7 linked regions of the Homo sapiens genome follow. The protein of the gene in region 6 purifies or fractionates together with the protein of the main gene of each other region. This does not show direct contact. Each region holds a gene or a part of one and is shown on either strand. Other genes may lie near its edges.

Region 1 (3,500 bases), on a different chromosome or scaffold from region 6:
CCCAACCAGGAGCCAGGACTGGACATCTCATGACAAGATGCCTTCAGTCCTGCTGTGGTTAGGCAGGCGGCAGAAATTAGTATGAGGAACCCAGGACAACAGGGCAGCCAAGTTGGATTCAGGGCTCTCTGAGGTAACAGGAGGGCCCACAGCCACAGTGACTGCCCGTGGGGCTGGTGAGAAGTTGGGGGCACAGTTGGGCCCGGAAGGCTGGAGGGGAACACACACTGGGCAGGCCTGCACTCTCTTTGGACACACAGCAGTAGGAGAACAGACCTCCTCTCGTCCCCAAGAGCAGGCTGGGCTCTATGTGGGGCCAGAGAAAAGGCCTCCCGGCCTGAGGCCAAGGGACACTTGGCCACTGACGAGAAGGGGACAGGGTCACTCACTTGAAGGCACCAGAGTAGCTGAAGTACGGTTCCTGGGAGGAGAAGGCACATTTGTTTTCCCCTGTCCCCGCACACAGGCGACACAGGTTGGGGAACTGTCCTTTATCTGCACCGGGAACACAGCTGGCTGAGAAGAACCTGGCCACAGCTGTTAAACACAGAGAAGTGGACCACAGAGTGTGAGCCAGCCCTGGTCACAGCAGGTTACACCTCCCATCCTGAGGTCTCCGTGGGCAAGGCCCCTTCCTCCACCCCTGCAGGAGAGACTCTGTCATGGGGCTGGGAGCTCGAGACATGCACCTCTGCCGAGAGCAGACTCAGCTGTGCCTCCCAAGGGCTGCTAGGGTAACGGATCCTGCCAGCAGGATGTTACAAGCTGGCCAGCCTCACCCCCACCTTGATTCATCCCACACTTTCACCTGCATGATCTGTGTGGCCTGTGCTTACAACTGGAATAGAGCCCCCTGCCTGAGGCCACTCACTATCCCCCAGCCATCTTACCTGCCTCAATGGGCTCAGGTGGACCCGTCCAATTCAAGAATGGACGAAGTGTCCCTATAGGGACATTCCATCCAGCGGTCCTGCGAAGGCCTGTGTGGCAGGACTTCAGACCTTGCAGTTCGTTCAGCTGAAAGCTGCCGCCCTTCTTCACCACAGCCACGGCATAATAGTGAGTTCGTGGCTCTGCAAAGGGGCAGACAGAATTGAAAGTTCTTAGCCTGGACAAGAGGGACAAAAACAACCCATCCTGAAAAGTCTCCGGTGGGAAGGGGGAATGCTGTGCTGCAGTTTCCTCACAGCTCACGTGTGTCCTCCTCTCGTGGGTCAGCGTCAGGAGGAACGGCCTTCATCTGGCCCAGAGCCCAGCGACTCCATTCCCTACATGTGTGATGTGACCCAGACTCCACCTCCACATGTTCCCCCAGTCTTAATCCACACAGCTCAGGGCACAGGCTGAGGCCACCGTGGCCTCTGGGTCCCCAGGCAGAACTCACGTCTTTCGGTCCCGTAGACTTCCGCCGCTACAGGTCGCAGTTTGTAGGGGGCCAGGCCTGCCTCGTATATGAAACCACCATCAAGGGTCACAGCATCGGCCCTGTTTTCCTGAAAGTAAAGAGGCCAGACTGGCTTCAGCAGAAAACTCACCCAAACCCAGCAAGTGGGACTTCAGGACCTCAAAAAGTCTCCATGGCTGGAAGGGTCGTCAAAGGGGTCCGCTTTCCATCCTGTCCCCTCACTTCCTATGAGAGATGGTGAGAGCCAAGGACCCCTGTTTTGGGACAGTGAGCACCAGCCCTCTAAGTCCTGAGACTGGCGCCTGCCCTCTTTCTCCTCTGCCTGCCTGTGTCACTCTCCCGATCACACCCCTCACAGTCATCTATATTTGAAGTCGTTTGTTCTAGATACTTTCTATTTTTGCTCTATATTCATTTCTTTTAAGTTCTGTTTTATTGGATAGAAAATATAGTTATTAAGCTATCCTAAAATTTTCATAAGAAACCATGTTCCTCCGCTTCAGCACATTGCTTCCCACATGATTACATATTTCTTTGGTTTGCAATGTGGGATAGTTTAGTGGTCCCCAACTTTTTTGCCACCAAGGACCAGTTTCAGGGAATGTAATTTTTCCACAGACAGATGGGGAATGGTTTTGGGATGAAACCGTTCCACCTCTGATCATCAGGCATTGGATTCTCATAGGGAGTGCAACCTAGATCCCTCGCATGCACAGTTCACACTAGGGTTCACACTCCTATGAGAATCTAATGCCGCCGCTGATCTGACAGGAGGTGGAGCTCAGGCAGTCATGCTCACTGGCCCTCTGCTCACCTCCTGGTCTGAGGTCTAGTTCCTAACAGGCCATCAACCGGTACCAGTCCGTGGCCAGGTGGTGGGGACCCCTGGGATACATCATATTTTGTGGACTGCTTATTCCTCTAAAACTGGATACATTTTCTAACTTCTGCAGAGCCTTTACTGATTTTGTAGACAGCATAATGTTTTCTCATAATGTGGGTGTTCTATCGTGTATTGAATAATTTCCCCCAATGTTTAGCATTTAAGTTTATTTCTAACTGTTTCCTGTGAAGACTGTATTTTCATGAATATCTTTGTCCTCAGTGTTTTTCCTTGTGACCACTTGTGTCCTTGGGTAGGCAGCTGAGGGTGGAATCCCCCAGATGAGGAGCACGTTTCCCCCTGTGACCCGGGCTGCCGTTGCCATTCTGCTTCCAGAAGACTTATAATACCAATTCAGAATGGCGCTGACCGTGAGGACCAGCTTCACTCTTGAATCACCAGCAGGGCAGGCTATCATTCTATTAGCTGTTATTACTATAGAAAATGTGAGTACTAACAAATCGCTCAGGTCTGATTAGTAAGGGGAACATCTCACAAGTATTTTTTATTAATTATGAATTCCCTCTTACTGGTAACTCTGTTCATATCATTTTTCTTCTATGATTCTACATTTTTTCCAATTTGGGTTATTCTTTTATTTATTTATTTTTTCGAGCGGAGTCACCCAGGCTGGAGTGCAGTGGTACCATCTCAGCTCACTGCAACCTCCACCTCCCGGGTTAAAGCGATTCTCTTGCCTCAGCCTCCTGAGTAGCTGGGACTACAGGCGTGTGCCACCATGCCTGGCTAATTTTTTTTTTTTTGTATGTTTAGTAGAGATGGGGTTTCACCATCTTAGCCAGGATGGTCTTGATCTCCTGACCTCGTGATCCACCTGCCTTGACCTCCCAAAGTGCTGGGATTACAGATGTGAGCCACCACGCCCGGCCTTGAGTTATTCTTTTATAGAGTGTAAATAGTAATCATGTGTCAGAGCTGGCGCATATTCATTCATTCCAGTCCTTTCTAATTTTTTTATTTAAATATTTTCTATGGGCTATGAATTACATTTTCTGTATTTTAGAATATCTGTTTGTTTCGTGATTTAGATCATCATTTAAGAGATTTCTATTTCCTCTACAGTTCTGCTAGTTAACCTGCCCCCTAGTTTTTCAATAATACAAGTTTTATTTTTAACCATTTAATCTATCTCAACTTTATTTGAATGAATGGTATGTAGTACTGATTTCAAACAGGGATCTTATTTTCCGA
Region 2 (3,500 bases), on a different chromosome or scaffold from region 6:
CAAAGCTCTGTGCTGACACCATTGGCTCTAGCATCTCCTTGTGAACAGGGCACTGGGTAAGGAATGTGGGGCAGAACAGGTGTGAACCTGGCACAGGGTCAGCTCTGGGCAGCCCTGGCGTCTGACAGGAATGCTGTCCTGCATGTGACCTTGGGAAAAGTCCCCTGATCTATTCCAGTCTCTTGTTTCATGCCCTGTTCAAACCTCCCCCAGCCTGTTCAGGGCAGAAGAGTGCAGACAAAAGAAAGATTGGTTTCGGTTCTAACTTCACACACTAGGTTGTCAAGGGCCTAAAAGGGGACTGAGAATGGCTTCCAGAATGGGAGGAGTCAGATGACTTAAAAACAAACAAACAAACAAACAAAGAAACAAAAAACATGGCTGAGTACAGTGGCTCACACCTGTAATCCCAGCACTTTGGGAGGCCAAGGTAAGTGGATCATCTGGGGTCAGGAGTTCGAGACCAGCCTGGCCAACATGGTGAAACCCCATCTCTACTACAAATACAAAAATTAGCCAGGCATGATGGTGCATGCCTGTAATCCCAGCTACTTGGGAGGCTGAGGCAGGAGAATTGCTTGAACCTGGGAGATGGAAGTTGCAGTGAGCCACTGCATTTCAGCCTGGGCGACAGAGCAAGACTCTTGTCTCAGAAAACAAAAACAAACACACACATACACACGCACCAAAAACCATAGCCTCAAAGTGCTGATGAACTTGGAAGTTGGAACCATGACTTTTGACAATTGCATAACTATGTTTTTTTCCTCTTTGAAACTTAACTCATTTTGCTGCAATTTGGAGGGGAAGGGCAGCAGCAGGGGCCAGGGCCTCTGGAACTAGGTCTTAACTCTATTTCCCTTAGTTCCCATTTCCCACTAGAAAACTCTCTATGTTTTGGAAAAACATCAGTTATCAGAGCAGGAAAGGACCTCAGAGGCAGCTATCCCAAGTGGACTCATTTTGCAGAGGAGAAACAGAGGCTCTGGGCAGCAGATGAATGTGTCAAGGCGGCCCAGGGTCTCCTGACCACTCTGTCTTATGAGAATCTCCAGGATCATGCTCCACCCGCAAGTGGCCCTCAGCATCTTACCAGGAGCTCCTTCACAGGGAAGTCCTTTAGGTTTCCATCTCGGGGAGAGTCCAGCACCACGGGGAAGCCTTTATGGGGGGCCTCGATGTAGCCAAACTCAATTTCATCCTGCAGGGACACCAAGGAGAACTGTTAGACGAATCCAGGGGACAATTTGTGCACATGGGCAGAAAACTCGAGAAACACAAGAGCACAAAGGAAGAAGAACGTCTGTCTTGTTCCCCATTCCCTGGTCCCCCATCCTCCTCCCCTCACACTGATGATGGCAGCACAGGTGTCCATAGGCAGTCTCTGCACATCACAGGCAGGTTTCTTACCGATATCAGCCCCATTTTTTTTTTTTTGAGACAGGGTCTCACTCTGTTGCCCAGGCTGGAGTGCAGTGCCATGATTATGGCCCACTGCAGCCTCAAACTCCTGGGCTCAAGCGGTCCTCCTGCCTCAGCCTCTGAGTAGCTACGACTACAGGTGTGCACTACCATGCCAGGCTAATTTTTAAATTTTTTTTTGTGGAGTCAGGGTCTTGCTATGTTGCCCAAGCATGTCTTGAATTCCTGTTCTCAGGCAATCCTCCCACCTCAGCCTCCCAAAGTGCTGGGATTACAGGTATTATCCACCACGCGTGGCCTAGACCTCATTTTAAAAAACACAATAACCAGGCGTGGTGGTGCATGCCTGTAGTCCCAGCTACTTGGGAGGCTGAGGTGGGAGGATTGCTTAAGCCCGCAAGGCGGAGGTTGCAGTGAGCTGAGATCATGCCACTGCACTCCAGCCTGGGTGACAGAGCGAGACCTCGTCTCAAACAAAACAAAACACACAAATAGCAAGCAGCATCCTGAATATGTTTTCCGTTGAGTAACAACTTAACTTGAAGCACATCCTGTATCCATATTGAGAGACTGGCTTCATCCTTTTTAGCGGTTGCACAGAACTTCCGGGAAGGCCGTTACTCAGTCCTCCACAGATGGACATTTAGGTTGCTTTGCAATCTTTTGCTACTACAAGAAGCAGCACTGTAGTGCACTTGTATGTTTATGTCTTTGTGCACATGTGCAGATATGAGCTGACAGAAGAATCCCCATCTGCAGAGCTGCTGGGTGCCAGGCAGTTCACATGAAGCCAACTCTTCTTTGCTTGACCCGGGGGCCATGTCCTTCCCAGCCTGGACCTGGGCTCCTTACCTGGATCCAGCGATCGCCTCGGTTTAGGTACTGGAAGCAGACCTTCAGCTCACAGTTGGTTTTCTCCACAAGGTTCTTCACCTCTTTCAGGAACAGGTAATTATCCTTCATGCTGAGAAGTTGGGGGAAGAAGGAGAGGCCAGGAGAAAGGGTGAGGAGGGGCCAGAGTCATCTCCCTGAGATGGTGACAGCAGCTGGTATCTCTGGGCTGTGCCGGGCAGATCAGTCTACACCTGTGCTCACGGCCACCTTTATAAAGGCCGCTGGAATCAAAGGCCAAGTAAACCCACCCACTCATGTGGCGTTTGTCAAGGTCATGAACAAATAAAATGAGGGGGGGAACTCTCACCCCCACCTGTCCCAATGCCTTACACCTCTGACTCCACAGATTTTCAAAGAAGAGCTCTGCCTGGCATGAAGATGGGATGGACGTGAGGACCCCAAGGGTCCCTTTTGGGTTGCTAGCCATCTAATCACAGGCACTTTTTCCCTTGGTTCTCATCTTGCTGTTGTGGACCTAGCTCATAATAGGTGGTCAATAAAAGTCTGTTTAATGAATGAGTCAGATGAGCTGCATTTCCACTGCATAGGAGGTTGCTAACTGCCTGGTAGAGGGTTAAGCAAGAGAACAGAATGGCAGCTATTATTTTTAGAGCATACCCTGTGTGCTGGGCCTTGGATAAATGCTTTGCCTGCTTCATCTCATTTAATTCTCACAGTGACTCTACGATGTGGGCATTTCAGAGAGGCCAAGAGAGTTGCTCAAGGTAACACAGTGGTAAGTGACGGGGCCAGGAACTAGACTCATGTCCATCTGACTCGGCCCTTGGCCACTCTGCCACGCTGCCTCTCCAGGCTGGGGTCACCCCTTACCAGCACACAAACACCGACACGGGAGGCAGGATGTTGGGGGTCATGATCCACGGAGCAATCCGGAATATCACGGTGTCCGTGAAGATGGGAGTCAGGGGAATGTCCTGGGTGTGGGAGACAAGGCGTGGGGGATCAAAAGGTTTTGTCAGGTGCTTTCTTTGCCTGCCTTTCAAAGCGGGTGAAACTGATGACAGTGAATACATTTCCTCAGGACTTGCTATGCACCAAGCCTGTGCTAAGTACTTTCACATGTGCCAATTCTTTTCTGCCTTCCGACCACCGCAGGAGGTAGATACTGCTATGATCCTCACTTTTCAGATGGGGAAACCGAGTCACAGGGCTGTTAACCGCCC
Region 3 (4,082 bases), on a different chromosome or scaffold from region 6:
TGGCTCACGCCTATAAGCCCAGCACTTTGGGAGGCCCACATGGGAGGATTGCTTGAGGCCAGGAGTTGGAGACCAGCCTGAGCAACATGGTGAAACCCCGTCTCTGCTGTAAATACACAAATTAGCTGGGCGTGGTGGTGGGTGCCTGTAATCCCAGCTACTCAGGAGGCTGAGGCAGGAGAATCACTTGAACCTGGGGGGCAGAGATTGCAGTGAGCTAAGATCGTGCCACTGCACTCCAGCCTGGGTGACAGAGTAAGACTCCATCTCAAAAAAAAAAAAAATTGCACCTGTACTAAACATATACAGACTTTTTTGGTGATTACCTCCTAAACAATACAGTATAACAACCATTCACACAGCATTTCCGTCGTATTAGGTATTATAAGTAATCTAGAGATTTAAAGTATGTGGGAGGCTGTGCTTAGGTTATATGCAAATACTATGCCATTTTATATCAAGGACTTGAACATCCATGGATTTTGGTATCTGCAGAGGGTCCTGGAATCAATTTCCCATGGAGACTGAGAGATGACCGTACTACCCACTTCGCAAGCAATGTCTTCTTTAATGTACTGAACCATCCCATTGTTCAGAGGAGAAACTGAAGCTCAGGGCTTTGAATAACTAGACCAAGGAGGCACAGCATGGGAGTGGGACATGAAGCACTCTACAATTAACCCTTTCAGGACAAGGCCCTGTCTCCCACACCCATCTGCCCAAAGGCTCTCCAGGGCCCCCTCCTCTTGGGTGTACCTTGACAAGAGACCTAGATTTTAGCTCACTATGCTGTCTGCAGTCCTGGATGGTCCCACTCCAGTGTCTGGTGCTCTGAGATGGAGTCAGCATTAGTGGCGGATGTGGAGACTGGGGGGACCTGTCTTCACTGGGGTAGACAGAGGAGATGTGGACTTTGCCCCCCATGAGCCCGGCACAAACCCAGAGCCGCCAGCAGGGCCTCGAGGCATCAGTCCCGGGCTCATGGGCTCCCTGAGGTGTTTCTCCTACTGTTTTCCGTTCCCCTCCTCCCTTCCATGCTGAGGTTGGTGGGGTGGGGGTGGGGGTGCCCACGCACGGAACAGCCACCACTTCTAACTATCGCCTGAGCCCTGATCTGCTGTCAGCTTCCACGTAGTCTCAGGGTCACAAAAGTCCAAGAGGCCTCTTGGGAATGTGTCACCTTCCAGCGTGGAGTCACACTGAGGAAGGAGGAGGGGAGGGCAGCCAGGGGGGTGGCGATAGGGAGAGAGTTTAAATGTCTGGCTGGCTCTGAGCTTCAGTCAGTTCCCACTGCAGCGCAGGTGAGCTCTCCTGAGGACCTCTCTGTCAGCTCCCCTGATTGTAGGGAGGATCCAGTGTGGCAAGAAACTCCTCCAGCCCAGCAAGCAGCTCAGGATGTTCCTGAAGGCCGTGGTCCTGACCCTGGCCCTGGTGGCTGTCGCCGGTGAGTAGAAGCTGTCTTTGGATGGCACTCCTGGGCTGCTGCTCTGAGTAGTGCAGGATGGAGGCTGAGCCAAAGCAAAAGGACACTTCTGAGTGCCCATCAGCCCCCAGCTGGACATGAGGTCTGCCTGGCTGCCAAGTGGCTCACAGGAGAGCTGGCCCAGTCCCAGTGGTGGGCCCATTGGCATTGGTGCTATACCAGTTTCACATATCCCTGTGGCTTCCAAAAAGCTAAGCTCAGACAGGGAAAATGGCAGGTTGAGGCACCCCCACCATCATCCAGTCTGCAGCTCAGAGCTGGAGCAGAGGGGCCACACAGGAGACGGGGCCTCATGAATTGCTCTCTGTTACCACCCAGGAGCCAGGGCTGAGGTCAGTGCTGACCAGGTGGCCACGGTGATGTGGGACTACTTCAGCCAGCTGAGCAACAATGCCAAGGAGGCCGTGGAACATCTCCAGAAATCTGAACTCACCCAGCAACTCAAGTAAGAGGGACTACAGTGTGCGGTGGTGACGGGGAATTCTTAAAGGCCATGCAATGTACTGGCAAGGGTTGAGCTTAGAGACAGGAGCCCTGAGCTTAGGATACCCACTGCCCTGCCACTAACTGGCCGGGCCTCTGAACCTAGGATCCACATATGTAAACCGGAAGTTTGGACCGAATAATCCCTGCCATGTCCTTTTGCTTTGACGTTCTAGAGTTTGACAAATGGCCACATCCTATCATTCAGGCTCATGGAAGAGAGGGAGGGAGGAAAATGTCACGTGAGCTGATTTCTAATACGTTTCAGAAAGACAGGCCCCAGTGGAATCAAGGGGAGGGAGGTGGGAATATTTGGGAGGCCCCTGGGCACAGGCAAGGAAAGCAGCACCTTGTGCCACTGGAAGACCCCAGCAGAGGTCAAGAAGACAACATTGTGTTACACAATGTGATCCTATGGCCCAGAACACTCCCTCTGGGAAGGACCTCAAAGTCCCACCCTCTGCAGACAAGGAGGGGAAAGCAAACTGCTGGAGGTGACATGGTGGGTAGATTCTGAGACAAACTATGTGGGAGATCCTGAGATAGAAATTCAGCATCGTAACTTAGTCTGTGACACCCATCCTCTCCAATCTGCACCACCATAGGGAGGGTGAACTCGGTACCTCTGAGCACTCACCTGTCCTAGCACGTGTGCATAAGGCGAGTGGTATACAAGCAGACAAAGTCTTGCCGTGTAAATGCCAAATGTAACGTGGCCTCCTTGTGCCCTTCCCCACAGTGCCCTCTTCCAGGACAAACTTGGAGAAGTGAACACTTACGCAGGTGACCTGCAGAAGAAGCTGGTGCCCTTTGCCACCGAGCTGCATGAACGCCTGGCCAAGGACTCGGAGAAACTGAAGGAGGAGATTGGGAAGGAGCTGGAGGAGCTGAGGGCCCGGCTGCTGCCCCATGCCAATGAGGTGAGCCAGAAGATCGGGGACAACCTGCGAGAGCTTCAGCAGCGCCTGGAGCCCTACGCGGACCAGCTGCGCACCCAGGTCAGCACGCAGGCCGAGCAGCTGCGGCGCCAGCTGACCCCCTACGCACAGCGCATGGAGAGAGTGCTGCGGGAGAACGCCGACAGCCTGCAGGCCTCGCTGAGGCCCCACGCCGACGAGCTCAAGGCCAAGATCGACCAGAACGTGGAGGAGCTCAAGGGACGCCTTACGCCCTACGCTGACGAATTCAAAGTCAAGATTGACCAGACCGTGGAGGAGCTGCGCCGCAGCCTGGCTCCCTATGCTCAGGACACGCAGGAGAAGCTCAACCACCAGCTTGAGGGCCTGACCTTCCAGATGAAGAAGAACGCCGAGGAGCTCAAGGCCAGGATCTCGGCCAGTGCCGAGGAGCTGCGGCAGAGGCTGGCGCCCTTGGCCGAGGACGTGCGTGGCAACCTGAGGGGCAACACCGAGGGGCTGCAGAAGTCACTGGCAGAGCTGGGTGGGCACCTGGACCAGCAGGTGGAGGAGTTCCGACGCCGGGTGGAGCCCTACGGGGAAAACTTCAACAAAGCCCTGGTGCAGCAGATGGAACAGCTCAGGCAGAAACTGGGCCCCCATGCGGGGGACGTGGAAGGCCACTTGAGCTTCCTGGAGAAGGACCTGAGGGACAAGGTCAACTCCTTCTTCAGCACCTTCAAGGAGAAAGAGAGCCAGGACAAGACTCTCTCCCTCCCTGAGCTGGAGCAACAGCAGGAACAGCAGCAGGAGCAGCAGCAGGAGCAGGTGCAGATGCTGGCCCCTTTGGAGAGCTGAGCTGCCCCTGGTGCACTGGCCCCACCCTCGTGGACACCTGCCCTGCCCTGCCACCTGTCTGTCTGTCTGTCCCAAAGAAGTTCTGGTATGAACTTGAGGACACATGTCCAGTGGGAGGTGAGACCACCTCTCAATATTCAATAAAGCTGCTGAGAATCTAGCCTCAACTGGTTGCCGGATGAATCCTCCTTGCAGCTGGGGAGGTGGGGAGGTAACCATGACTGGGCAGAGCTTAGCAGCGGCCTGGCAGGAGACACCCAGGATTGGGGAGATGAGACTGCAGGAGAGGTAAGGGCCTGGTGGACTGGAGGCGAGTACATGGGGAGTCCTCTAAGGGGAGGCAGAAAAAGATGTCACACATT
Region 4 (3,500 bases), on a different chromosome or scaffold from region 6:
TCATCAGGAGGGGTGCCCCTTTCTCAGCACTCCTTCACACTGGGGGCTGGCTCCCACAATCTCTCCACTTGTCCCTTGGTGTCTAAGGCTTTGGAGGGGCCCCTAAATCCTCGGCGACGGCCACCCTCAGTTGAGGCCTTTGAGAATTAACTTGTCTCCAGTCAATAAGCCTTCAGAACGCCCCATGGAGCGCCTGGCCCTGAGCTAGATGCCGCGGCCAAGGGTAAGATGGAGAATTGGTGCTCCCTGCCCTCAGGAAAGACATTCCTAGCCTGAGTGAGGAAGTGGGTGACACATGCATCTGAGGAATGAGAAAGCCATGGATGTCCCTTGGCTTTGAGCGGGGCTGGGCGGTGCGGGGGTGAGCACTGCTGAGTGGAGTGTGTCCCCATGTCTGGTCCAGGATTGAAGGGGCAGGGCCCAGCCAGCACCCCTGTCTCTTCCTGCCATTCCCCTCATCCACACCTTCTAGGTCTCATCTTTTGGGGCTCTGTACTCTGCAGGCACTAACTCCTCCATCATCTGGAACATCCTCATGCTGGTCTCTGTGCACCCGCCATGGCCCTGCCATCCCTGTGTGACCCCAGGCAGCTCCCCTGACCCTTGCCCCACCCTGGCTCCTCCTCTAGGCTCACCTCCACATGGCTGCCATGCTTATCTGTGCCTTGGCCACCCACACCTGCACACAAGGTGCCCAGTGGAAGGTCCCCGGGGTGTCTGTGTGAGTGTGTGCCCATGCCAGCACTGGGAGGCAGGACCATGCTATGATCTGGGAGGGGCCTGTGTGGGGCCAGCCTGCACGCGCTGTGTGTGTCTCTGTAGGCAGGTGGTGGGTGTGTGCCAGTGGTGTCTGGGTCTCTCTGGGTGTGCCTCTCTCACCTTGCTCAGGGTCTGAGAGCAGGTTCACTGGCCCCTGGCGGTGTCTGGGGTCCACACAGAGCCGCTCCACACTCTGCCCAGGCAGTGGCAGGATGGCAGAGGGAGCCTGTATGGGGGCTGGGACAGCCGGGGCACGGCTCCTGGAGCAGGAAGGGCAGGCTGGGGGCAAGGATGTGGAAAGGGGCCAAGGGGGCTGGGAACTTACCTGGGGTTTGGGTTGTCATGGTTGTTTCTAAAAGAAGAAAAAGTCTGGGTTTAGGCAGCCCCTTCCTGAGGAGTGGGAGGTTGAGGGAGGGAGCAGTGACTAGGTGTGGCTGGGTTCCCTCACTACTTCAACATCGAGACATGTGACAGGTCACTCCCCTCCCAGGATCCCCCTGTTAGGACAGGGCCTCTGGCCTTGGGGGCACCTTCGATTTTCATATTCATGACACGAGACACAGCTGGATCAGGATTTGAGGTGGCTGGTGGTGCTGAAGCAGGCACTAGGGCAGGAACATCCGGAAACAGAAAGGGAGCAGGAAGGCAGTCAGGAGGCGGGCAACCAGCAGCGCTGCCACCAAGCTCCAGCCCCCCATCCTGCCACACATACACTCCACCTAGAATGGCCTTTGTCACAGGAGATTTTCAAACAGAAGAGCATGCTGTCAGGGATAGGTCCAGCCTGGCTGTGCAGCTGCATTCGAGTGCAGATTTGGGGATCAGAAAACAGTTCAAGGGACCTCTGTTGGCTTTCTGAACGGAGGAAGCCCTCCCTTCCTAGAAGGTTTCCTCATGAGTCAGCCTCTAGAGTATAGTGGATCCTACTCAGTGAAAGTAAAGGACAGGTGAAGTCCTGCCTTGGGGAGGGGAGGCCTGATGTCCATACACTGGGTAGTGGGGAGAGGGGCCTTCAGAGAGAGGAAGCTGGCAAGGACTGCTCCAAAGAGCGCTGTGATGTGCATGCTTGGCCAGTCCGTGCCCCTCTTAGGGCCTAGGGTCCCCTCTGAACAAGGAGTGTGGGAGAGGCTGCTCTGTCATGGCCTGTGGTCTGACAACCTAGGGGCAGCTAAAGGACCCGGGTGAGCTCGCATCTGAGGAGATGAGACGCTAAGGATGGGGCAGGGGGCAGCTGCAAAGAGCTGGGAAGGCGAGGACAGCCTCCTTAGGAAATGCACTCCCACCCCAGCCCCAGTAAATGATCCCAGGTTGAACTGACCCACAATTACTTCACATCGTGCCCTCAGCAGCCGTCCCTGGCCTGGCCCTGTGGTGCGTGCTTTACCCCACCCCCCTCTATGGGGCAGGCTCAAGGACCACCGTGGGAAACCGAGGCCCTCGCAGGGCCGGAAGGCAGCTTACAGATGGCCAGACGGCGGAAGGGGTGGTAAGCAGCATGGTCAGGAACATCAGGAGGTCCTGGGAGTCCAAGTTGCCTGGAGCTGAGAACCCCAGGTCTGAAATTCATCCGGGAGCCAGCAGCTCCAGCTTTGGAGAAATCGACAGATGCAGTCTTCTCTCAGGTGGGGTGTGGGTCTTCACAGCCAGGGCTTGAGATCCACCCAGGAGTGGGTGCGGAGAGGGCAGCTATGTCCCCTCTCCCCACACCCGGCCAACTTGGGGAGCCTCTCCCCCAACAGCTGGGAGATGAACAATAATGGACCTCCCTCAAGCTCCCCCCCAGGGATGTCATGCCTCCCCCTGGCAGAAACCCTCAAACTACCTTGTCTATTCCATCCTCTTCTTGGAGAAAAGGAAGCCTCTGTGTGGTCAAGTCCTGATCAGATACAACTGAACTGAGGCCCGAGGGCTGTCACCAGCCAGAGGAGCTGGGCAAGGCACTACCCTCCACAGCCAGGACTGAGCCCAATCTGTCAATCTCCCCTCCCCCCACCTCCTACTTTGTCACCTGGTTTTGGTATTTTTGCTCCCTGGAGATAATATTTGAAGAAAGTGGAACCTGGAAATCAGTGGGACCTGGGTTTGCATCTTGCACCCACCTTCCTGTGGCCCCACTTGGATGGGGACTGTATTCTTAGTGCTGGGGACAGGGCCTGAGGCACAGCCAATATTTGAATGCACAGGCGACTAAATGCACCAGCATGCTGGGTCAGATTACACTGCCTCCTGGCAGCAGGGATGGGCTGGAGAGGCCTGGGTGGACCTGGGCCCTGGCCAGCAACCTCACAGGGCTGGTGCCCTGGACCCTGTGTTAGCAGACCACCACCCAGCACAGCCTTTGAGGATGTTCGCTGCTTACCTGAGTGGACATTCCTGTTTCTACTTTCTGGATAAAACAAAGAGAGAGAGAGAGACAGACAGACAGAGACACAGACAGACACCGTCAGGGTGGTTTTCATCAATTTGAAGCGCTTGTGTTTAATCTTGCTACCCAATCCTGGACTATATCGTAGGTGCAATGAATTTGGGGAGACAGGAGACCCGGCTTCACTTTCCTCATCAGTGAATAGGCTGAATCTCCCAGGGGGAGTCTGTTGGGGGCACGGTTGGGGTCTTGGTCAGGATGCAGGGAAGATCGGGGAGAACGCTGGGTCCAAACTCTGCTACCTGGGAGGCTGAGATCTCAACCCCACACCCACCGCCTTCCATGGGCTTCTCAGCAACTTGAGACTGCTCTTGGT
Region 5 (3,500 bases), on a different chromosome or scaffold from region 6:
AGAAGGAAATGATGGAAGTGGGGTGATCTCAGAGCTCCATGTTAGCAACTCTGGGAGTGTGGGCCGGTCCATCTGTCTGTCTGCCCACCCTGGCAGGACAATCAGGCCTAGGAGGTCTGGAGGAGCTCGCCGAGCTGGGCGGAGGAGGCAGGCCAGTCCCATGCTGGAGGGGACCCCACGGCCCCTTCTACAGGGCAGGAGAGTCCTCAGCTGAAGGGCTTCACCAGCTTCATGGCAGCATAGTTCTGGAGGGAGGGAGGAGACAGGGACCCATGGTGATCCCACTGGGGCAGGCACAGCCAGAGCAGCTGTCCCAGACCTGGGGCTCAGAGGATGGGGCTAAGCTGCCAACAGGCAAGAGGCTGGGAGAGGACGCTCGTGGCTCTTCAACCACCTGCCCACGCCTCGCCCTCACCACTTGCCATCCATACCATGTGGGGCTCAACACTCCGCCCTGCCTAGTGCTCCAGCCCATCAGGCAAACCCATACCCTCCGAAACTCCACCCGCACCCTCCCACCTGGGGGCCAAAGCTGCCCAAATTGCTCTGTCTTCTCCCCCATCAAGCCAGGCCCATTTCCAGGTTCCAGCTGACTGCCCAGAGGACTCTGAGCACCCTGGACCTGGCCTCTTCCATCAGACAGGTGCTGAAGGTGGGGCCCAGGGTCCTCCCCCACATGGCAGCCCAGGGCTTACGGGTCATCACACCCCTGTCCAGAAAGCAGAGAGAGAGTTGGGGATGGGCTGTCGTGGATGACCCACGGCACAGCCCAGCACTAGAGACAGGGCACCCTTGATTGAGCCCTGCCTGCTGCAGGATTGACAGTATCCTCCCCTCCCCACTTCTCCCCCCAAAAACCATGAAAACACATACAACACAATACAGGGCTCCTAATTGGGACAGTATGTTCCCCAGCGCCGGCTGGGGAAAGCCAACTCTGGAAACAGAGCCGGCCCTCCTTCCCCGCCAAACGCCTCCTGCCTCCCCACGCTGGCCCTGCTCCCGGCTGGCTCTGAGGGGGAAGCTGAGAGGAATCAGACAGGCTGCCCCCTCATACCCCTCCCAAGGGAATTTCCAAGAGGGTAGGGGATTAGGCCAACTGGAGGAAGCTGCCCTGTCCTTGGGCCCCTCTCCACTAGGCCCTGGCTTGGGGCAGGCAGCCTCTGTCCCATGGCCTGAAAGCCAGGTGAGGGTCACCAGGGCCCGGCCCTCATCATCTGGTACTGGCCAAATGAATGAGTGACTTGGGTGGAAGGAGGCAGGATGTGCTCAGCTTGTAGCAAAGACCTGTGAGCAAAGCCAGTCTGCAGCCTCAGGCCCAGGCCACCCCCTTCATCCCTAGACCCCTTACCTAGGATCTGACATCCCCACACCAGCCCTGGGAGAGGGGAAGCAGGGTCCATATTTTAAAGAGGACAACTTCCAGAAGAACTCAAAGGAGAGTGGCCCGCTGCTGGGGGGACAGGAGACAGGGAGGAGCTCTGACCAGGCCCCCCACAGTACCACTCTGCTTCTGCCCACAGCGATGAGGAAGGACCACAGGCTGGAAGTGACTGGAAATCTTTCCTTCCTCTCCCAGCCAGGCAGCAGGGCCTCCTTCCCCAGGCCCCTGGAGGCCTAGATCTGCTGCCCAGTAGCCTAGCAGTGCAGGGTGCAGCTGGCAGGGGCTGGGCTTAGGCATGTCATGGGTGGTGGTGATGCCACTTTGGACCTGCCTTTCCCCTCCCCTTGGCTTTTCAGAAGGAGGCTTGGCTTAATATACAGCAGCCAGGGAAGATGACAGTGCTCCCCTAAGCACAGTCCCAGCCACAGAAGGCCAGAGCTAACCTAGTGCAGCCCCTTCCTCATGTGAGCAGGAGGGATTTGCCAAGGTCACAGGAAGAGTCCATAATCCTGACTCCAGCGACAGAGCTCTGTCACATCCAACAGGGTTTCTCCAACCATCATGTGCCTACATGCAGATTCCCCCTCAGCAGGCCGGGGCCGGCCGGGGACTCTGAGTTTCTAGTGAGTTCCCTGGTGCTACTGCTGCTAGTCCTCCGACTACACCAAGGGCGAGGGTCTGCAGCAGCTCTTCTCTTCCTAAACTCCCACGGCCTGAGCCTCCCAAAAGAGCATTTGATCATCCACAGTACTTTTCCTTACTCTCTGGTTTCAATGTCTCCCCAGGGAAGTGAGCACTCCCCAGTGGCATGAGGCCTCATCCTCTTCTCCCTCATCCCCAAAACACGCCCTTACCTCCCAGACGCACACACGTGCTTAGAGTCTCTGTGGCTAACTGAACACTGGCCAGCTGGGCTCCGAATGGGAGGAGGAGCTTGAGGCAGGCTGGGAAGGGTGCCCCCTGGGCAGGAGACACCAGGCAGAAGTCCTGGGGCCTGACCCCGGATCTCAGGTCACAGCAACAGCTCATGCTGCAGGACACCACACGTGCACACACTCTTCCACAGTCCTGTATCTCAGCTTATATTTGTAATCTCGTCTCCCTTGGCTTAAAGAGGCCTCCCACATCGTACACACCTCGAGTCCCTGCAACCTAGATCTACCCTGGACCACAGTCAGATTTTGCTGATGGACAAACCTCAGAACCTCAGAAACATTTCTCCATTGCGCCTCAGGTGACCACAGCCAGCTTAGCAGGCCTGGCCTGTAGGCAGACCCTTCACCACCCTGGTTCTAGACTCTCCTTAGTCACTATGGCCCAGATGGTAGCTGGTCCGGACATCCAAACCAGACATCCTTTCCCCAGCTCCTCTCAGTTCAGCTGTTAGAACTGCATGGAAAGCTGTGTGGTTATAACTCTCTTCCTCTCTGAGATGCATTCTGCAGACATGGGCATAGCCAGCTGCAGTGGGATGGAGGGGCTCTTGCCCTTTCCTCCTCCTGGAGGACTCACAGAGCAAAGAGCTCACCTGGGGGCAGTTCCCCAAGCAGCCTGTCTGCCATGGGATCAATGCTCTGGGCCAGTGGCCTGGTGCTGACCAGGACTGAGGCCTGAAGTGGGAATCACAGTGAGCCCTGGATTGGGAGTGTGCATGGAATACTGTGCAGCCTACGGCCAGGCCCTTTCCTTCTCTGGGTGTTTGCGTCTTTGCCACCAACATAAGGTCCTCAAGGGGTGGATTACACCATTCTCTCCACTTTTATATAGGGTTGGAGTTTTCATATTAAAAAGATTTCTTTTAAATTTTAAAGAGCATTAGAAATCAGGTGTCAGCCTGAGAATGCTGCAACCCCTTCAAGGTCTAAAGTATCAGAGACACTGGGGGAGGCTCCCTGGTGATCCGGGTTCCCTGATGAGCTGTGCGGGCTGGGGAAGCACAGGCAGGGACCTTCCTCCCCCAGGCAGGGCCCCACAGAGCAAGGGCACGACAGCCACCTCTGGTATGGCCCCACAAGCTCATCAATTGGCTTCTTACCAAGTGAAAGGAAACCCAAATGGGCACCGAGCCAAGTAAGGGCTCCTGGGCCAGCCTCCCGCTCCCCGACAGCTTCCCTAT
Region 6 (2,235 bases):
AGGGAGTGGCAGAGGAAGTCAGGTTGGGTGACCCCAGTAACTGCTCTCAGAGGCTGGGTGATGACCGGCTTCCTGGCTTCTCTGGAATAAACCTTTGCCACCACTTCCTGCATTTCAGCTTCAGTACAGGCAGAGAATGGGGATAGGTGGGGGAATGAGGTGAGAGGGGAGATGTTTAGAGGTGTGGAGGGCGGCAGAGGTTTGAACAGTGCAGACAAGGGGAGAGTTCAGCCGACTGGGGAGGAAGAGGATGGACGATGGAGCCTCTGGGCATCTGGATCAGCAGGAGCATAACATCTGGATCAGCTGGAGCGTAGCATCTGGATCAGTTGGAGCGTATGACTTTATTGATCCAGGACATGTATTTGCAGATCTGGGTGTAGACAGCTGGATGCTGGGCAGAGCCACAGGGGTAAACACCCCACGAGAGGATGCCTTGGAGGGTCTCGTCACAGACCAGGGGGCCTCCAGAGTCACTCTGGGGGTGGCAGGAAGGAGAGATCAAATAAATGTGCCAACGTGAGAGCTGTCACTTTGGGATCTGGGGCAGTGGTGGGGAAGGAAGGAGTTGGGTTGGGATAAAGACGAGGATGGGATGGGGTTGGAATTAGGTATGAGCTGGAAGGTAGGAATGGAGGTGGACTTCAGGTTATGGGAGGTTGGGCTGGGGGATGAGAATGAAGGCACAGTGAGACTGGGGTTGGGATTGTAGTTCATGGAAGGTGAGGGGATGAAAATGGGCTTGGAGATGGGAATGGGGTGGGGTTGGGATGGAAATGGGATTGAGGATAGGGATGAGGAGGGGGTTAGGTCTGGGTAAGAGTTGGGGTCAAGGATGGGTTTGGGAATGGAGTTGGGGATCGGGCACAGGGTCTGCTCTTTTCCCATAACCTCCCTGTCCTCCCTCCCAGGAGTCAGAGACTCTCCCTGTTCAGACCCTACCTGGCAAGGGTCCTGGCCCCGGTCCAGTCCAGCACATATCATGTTGTTGGTGACCACGCCAGGGTAGAAGACCTCACACTCTTTAGGGCTCAGGATAGTGATGCTGGAGCAGGTCAGGCCCTTGTTGTACTTCACTGAAGGGAGAATATGCCAGTAATCCCTGGGTCCAGCCCCCAATCCTTGGGGAGCCAGGAGTCCAGATACAAGACCGTTTCTATCCTAAGCCCCAGCCCCTCCTCCTTCAGACTCAAGAATCCTGGCCCCAGCCCCTCCCCACTTAGACCCAGGAGTCCAGGCCCCCAGCCCCTCCTCCCCTCAGACTCACAGACCCAGGCATCTAGGACCCCAGCCCGTCCTCCCTCAGATCCAGGAATCCAGTCCCCAGCCCATCCTTCCTCAGACCCAGGGGTTCAGGCCCTCAGCCCCCTCCTCCTGAGGTTCCGGCCTCAGAGCCCCAGCTCTTGCCTCTCCGGGCGGCCGTGGTGCCCCAGCCAGCAACCTGGCACTGGTCTCCGGGCTGAGCACAGCGGTAGGGAAGCTGCAGGGCCCGGACGCGGGGCCCCAGCACTACGGGCCTGGCCAGCTTCAGCAACATGAGATCGTGCTCATCCGTTCGCCTTGGCAGGATGGGGCCTGAGCCCTGGTGGTACTTGGGATGGACAACAGAGCGAGTGGTCCGGCGGAGCTGCTCTCCCTGAAGAAGCAGCAGGTGGTCATCCCCTACTCGAGCCCACAGTGGCCTGGGGGAAGGAAGAGGCATGTGAAGGCAAACCCTTCATAGGGACTGGGAAAGCAGGTGGGCAGTGACGCAGGGCCTGGAGATAGGAAGAGTCTGAGGGAAGAGGGCCTTGTGGGAGAAGGGGACCTCAGTGGACATGGGGAGGAGGAATCAGTTGTTTGAGCTCTGAGGATCTGTAGGAATTGAGGAGGGCTGGGGGCCTGGACACCTAGGTAAGCCTTCCACATTTTCTTTTCTCTTTTTCTTTTCTTTGTTGAAACAGAGTTTCGCTCTTGTCACCCAGGCTAGAATGCAATGGCGCAATCTCGGCTCACTGCAACCTCCACCTCCCAGGTTCAAGCAGTTCTCCTGCCTCAGCCTCCTTCCTGAGTAGCTGGGATTACAGGCACCCACCACCACACCCAGCCTTTTTTTTTTTTTAATTTTTTTAAAATTTTTTATTTTTTATTTTATTTTATTTTTAGTTGAGAAGTGGTTTCACCATGTTGGCCAGGCTGGTCTTGAACTCCTGACCTCAGGTGATCCACCCGCCTTGGCCTCCCAAAGTGCTGGGA
Region 7 (2,891 bases), on a different chromosome or scaffold from region 6:
CTTTAAAAATGTAATAGGATTGCTTGTAACTCAAAGGATAAGTACTTGAGGGGATGGGTACACCATTCTCCATGATGCATTTGTTTCACATTGAATGCCTGTATCAAAACATCTCATATACCCCATAAATTTATACACCTACTATGTACCCGCAAATTTTCTTAAATAATTTTTTAATTTTTATAAATTATTTAGATCAAACTCTTGAAGAACTTATATTCTATAATCACTGAAAACCACTCATTTATTTTATTCTAACATGCTTTTAGAGAAAATCAATTTTGCAATTGTTTTCTTTCTAATACAGAAAGGTTTGAATACTGAAAAAGAGAAAATTAAAGTCAGAATGGATAGAATGAAAAACGTTCTGATTGTTGGACAAGCTAAAGTCATACAAATAATTGAATATTGGGTATCAATTCTTAAACTAGAAGAGTCAAATTAGTGTTTTGTTCAAAGATCCTTTTATGTTTTCATGTTAATTATTTCAACAAGTTGTATTACTTGTCTGAAGCAGAAAATATCTTTCTAAATACAGCTTTGAAGGCTTGTTTAACTTGCTGATTCCTCAGAGTATAAATAAATGGGTTTAACAACGGGGCAACTGAAGTATTGAGCACAGTTACTCCTTTGCTTAAAGCAACTCTTTCATTCGCTGATGGCTTTATGTAGATAAACATACAACTACCATAAGTGATGGAGACAACAATCATGTGAGAAGAGCAGGTGGAAAAGGCTTTCTTCTTTTGCTGAGCTGAAGGGAATTTCAGAATTGTCTTGATGATGTAAGAGTAAGAAAGGATTACTAAAAACAATGTGACAATAAGTGTCATCACAGCTAATAAAAAGGCAATCAGTTCCAGTAAATGTGTGTCTGAGCAAGAAAGTTGTAGGATAAGAGAAATGTCACAAATGAAATGATCAATGATATTTGAAGCACAGAAATCCAAGTTAAGACCTAAAATCAGTGGAGTGAAAATGATCAGGAATCCAGTTACCCAAGAACTGAATACAAGCTGGTAGCAAACTTTGTTACTCATGATGGACATATAACGCAAAGGTTTGCAGATGGCAACATAGCGATCATAGGACAGAGCAGCTAGAAGGAAAAATTCTGTAACCCCCAAGAATATGTAAAAAAACAACTGAGATATGCAACCATTACAGGAAATGGTCTTTTCCCTGGTAACAATGGTGATTAGGAATCTGGGAATGCAAGCAGTTGTGAATGAAATTTCCAGAAAAGAGAAATTACGGAGGAAGAAATACATTGGAGTCTTGAGCTGGGAATCCAGCAGAATGAGGGCAATGATAGTGAAGTTCCCTATCATGCTCAACACACAATTTAGAAGTAGAAATAAGAAAATTACAATCTGTAACTGAGAATTATCCGTCAGTCCCAGAAGAATAAATTCTATCTGCCTTGTATGATTCTTCATTTCTCTGTTGTGATTTCAATCAAATTCTAGGAATAAAAAGGTGCAAGGGTTGAGCTAGGTCCAGGAAAAGATACAGGAAAGTTTCCACACTTACAAACATATACATTTAAGAGGTAGTACTCCATGGATGTTGAAGATATGATATAGAACTATGCAACAGAAATTGTAAACTAGGGGTTTAAAAGTACAACAAACATCATCTCACTTTGGAAAATTGATTTGCAAAGCCCTTAATAGTTGATTTTCAAGCTAGTTTTTTTCATGCTTCCACTTCAAGATTCCACTTAATTGTAACTAATTCCAGGTTTGTCAAGTTGTAAATAAATTAGGTAAAGATCTTGGTTCAGGATTCAAAAATAGTTCATTCATTTTAAAATTATTAATTTCATCTAAAGAAAATGATGCCAGTGTAATGAATTAAGACCTAAGTTAAGGGAAGGCACAGTGACTCATGCCTGTAATCCCAGCACTTGGGAGGCCAAACTGGGGATCGCCTGGGGCCAGGAGTTGAAGATCAGCGTGAGCAACATAGGGAGATGCCAGCTTGGGTGACAGAGAGAGACCCTGTCTTTTTTGTTAAGAATTAAAAGACCTACAGTCAAATTTTGAAACTTTACATTATATTATATTAAAGTGACATTTGTTTAAAGCCCTGCTATACAGCCTTTTTCAACTTCTCTATGAACTACATATGAAGATACGGAAAAATGCCCCTAAAAAGTATGAGTTGATACCACAACAAAATAAATACTAGTTGAATCTAGGAAACTCAAAACTTAATATTATGCATATATTGCCACATTTACAAAAAAAAAGTCTATTTAGGACTTAAAAATTTTGTCTTGTGTAATCAAGACCATAGGAGTAAGAAAGAAAACAGATAAAACATTGCATCTCTTCCAAGTCGCTACAGTTACAGGTACCTACAGTCTAAACCTACTTTCTAGATGTAATACTGTGAGTGAAAAATCAGTGCTTTCTTGCCACACTATCTGAGTCCCCAACAATTATTCATGCAGGTAACCAACGACTATTAATTTAGGGAAATAATGGGGTAGGAAGGGTGTAATCATTTGAATGGGACAAAAGGATTCTGATGGTATTTTAAGTTTGTTATTGTAGGTTTCCCAGAGTATCAGGTTGCCAATGAAAAAAGTGAAGTGAGTAATAGTACAGAAGTAAAGCAAAGGTGACAGACTGCTAGGAATTAGAAAGTGGACTTAAAATCCAGCTAAGGATCTGAGAAATAACTTATCAATGGCTACTGAGAAAAAAGGCAATCCACTCTCAGGGTTAAAGTTTGGGAAGCTTCTTTATTGTTTAATAATTAATTTTTAAATGTTAAGCTGAGTATCACAAACAAACGAAAAAAATAAGACATAAGAAAGTGTAAAATGGCTAAGTTAACAGTTTAAAGTCAAAGATCTTGAAATTTTTAGAAAAGTTTAATAA

Evidence for each region.
Region 1: the proteins of KLK10 (region 6) and LTF purify together in Homo sapiens (affinity purification with mass spectrometry; one large-scale study listed by BioGRID and IntAct). This does not show direct contact.
Region 2: the proteins of KLK10 (region 6) and PADI2 purify together in Homo sapiens (affinity purification with mass spectrometry; one large-scale study listed by BioGRID and IntAct). This does not show direct contact.
Region 3: the proteins of KLK10 (region 6) and APOA4 purify together in Homo sapiens (affinity purification with mass spectrometry; one large-scale study listed by BioGRID and IntAct). This does not show direct contact.
Region 4: the proteins of KLK10 (region 6) and ITIH4 purify together in Homo sapiens (affinity purification with mass spectrometry; one large-scale study listed by BioGRID and IntAct). This does not show direct contact.
Region 5: the proteins of KLK10 (region 6) and DYSF purify together in Homo sapiens (affinity purification with mass spectrometry; one large-scale study listed by BioGRID and IntAct). This does not show direct contact.
Region 7: the proteins of KLK10 (region 6) and OR6C70 purify together in Homo sapiens (affinity purification with mass spectrometry; 2 studies listed by BioGRID and IntAct, with this or other methods). This does not show direct contact.

What each region holds. Positions count from the first base shown.
Region 1 is NC_000003.12:46,454,906-46,458,405, forward strand, and holds part of LTF (lactotransferrin isoform 1 preproprotein), read right to left. Parts: intron 1,494-3,500; coding exon 1,385-1,493; intron 1,074-1,384; coding exon 891-1,073; intron 538-890; coding exon 390-537; intron 1-389. UniProt on the Homo sapiens protein: Transferrins are iron binding transport proteins which can bind two Fe(3+) ions in association with the binding of an anion, usually bicarbonate. Lactoferricin binds to the bacterial surface and is crucial for the bactericidal functions.
Region 2 is NC_000001.11:17,081,452-17,084,951, forward strand, and holds part of PADI2 (protein-arginine deiminase type-2), read right to left. Parts: intron 3,252-3,500; coding exon 3,148-3,251; intron 2,387-3,147; coding exon 2,275-2,386; intron 2,264-2,274; exon of another isoform or gene 2,066-2,263; coding exon of another isoform or gene 1,961-2,065; intron 1,202-1,960; coding exon 1,094-1,201; intron 1-1,093. UniProt on the Homo sapiens protein: Catalyzes the deimination of arginine residues of proteins.
Region 3 is NC_000011.10:116,820,505-116,824,586, reverse strand, and holds APOA4 (apolipoprotein A-IV precursor), read left to right. Parts: upstream 1-1,282; 5' UTR 1,283-1,395; coding exon 1,396-1,444; intron 1,445-1,801; coding exon 1,802-1,928; intron 1,929-2,705; coding exon 2,706-3,720; 3' UTR 3,721-3,887; downstream 3,888-4,082. UniProt on the Homo sapiens protein: May have a role in chylomicrons and VLDL secretion and catabolism. Required for efficient activation of lipoprotein lipase by ApoC-II; potent activator of LCAT. Apoa-IV is a major component of HDL and chylomicrons.
Region 4 is NC_000003.12:52,817,173-52,820,672, forward strand, and holds part of ITIH4 (inter-alpha-trypsin inhibitor heavy chain H4 isoform 1 precursor), read right to left. Parts: coding exon 3,459-3,500; intron 3,146-3,458; coding exon 3,119-3,145; intron 2,819-3,118; coding exon 2,768-2,818; intron 2,621-2,767; coding exon 2,582-2,620; intron 2,347-2,581; coding exon 2,221-2,346; intron 1,365-2,220; coding exon 1,290-1,364; intron 1,112-1,289; coding exon 1,085-1,111; intron 997-1,084; coding exon 880-996; intron 1-879. UniProt on the Homo sapiens protein: Type II acute-phase protein (APP) involved in inflammatory responses to trauma. May also play a role in liver development or regeneration.
Region 5 is NC_000002.12:71,683,199-71,686,698, reverse strand, and holds part of DYSF (dysferlin), read right to left. Parts: intron 246-3,500; coding exon 207-245; 3' UTR 1-206. UniProt on the Homo sapiens protein: Key calcium ion sensor involved in the Ca(2+)-triggered synaptic vesicle-plasma membrane fusion.
Region 6 is NC_000019.10:51,014,475-51,016,709, forward strand, and holds part of KLK10 (kallikrein-10 preproprotein), read right to left. Parts: intron 1,683-2,235; coding exon 1,408-1,682; intron 1,077-1,407; coding exon 943-1,076; intron 479-942; coding exon 326-478; 3' UTR 1-325. UniProt on the Homo sapiens protein: Has a tumor-suppressor role for NES1 in breast and prostate cancer.
Region 7 is NC_000012.12:55,468,700-55,471,590, forward strand, and holds OR6C70 (olfactory receptor 6C70), read right to left. Parts: upstream 1,440-2,891; coding exon 501-1,439; downstream 1-500. UniProt on the Homo sapiens protein: Odorant receptor.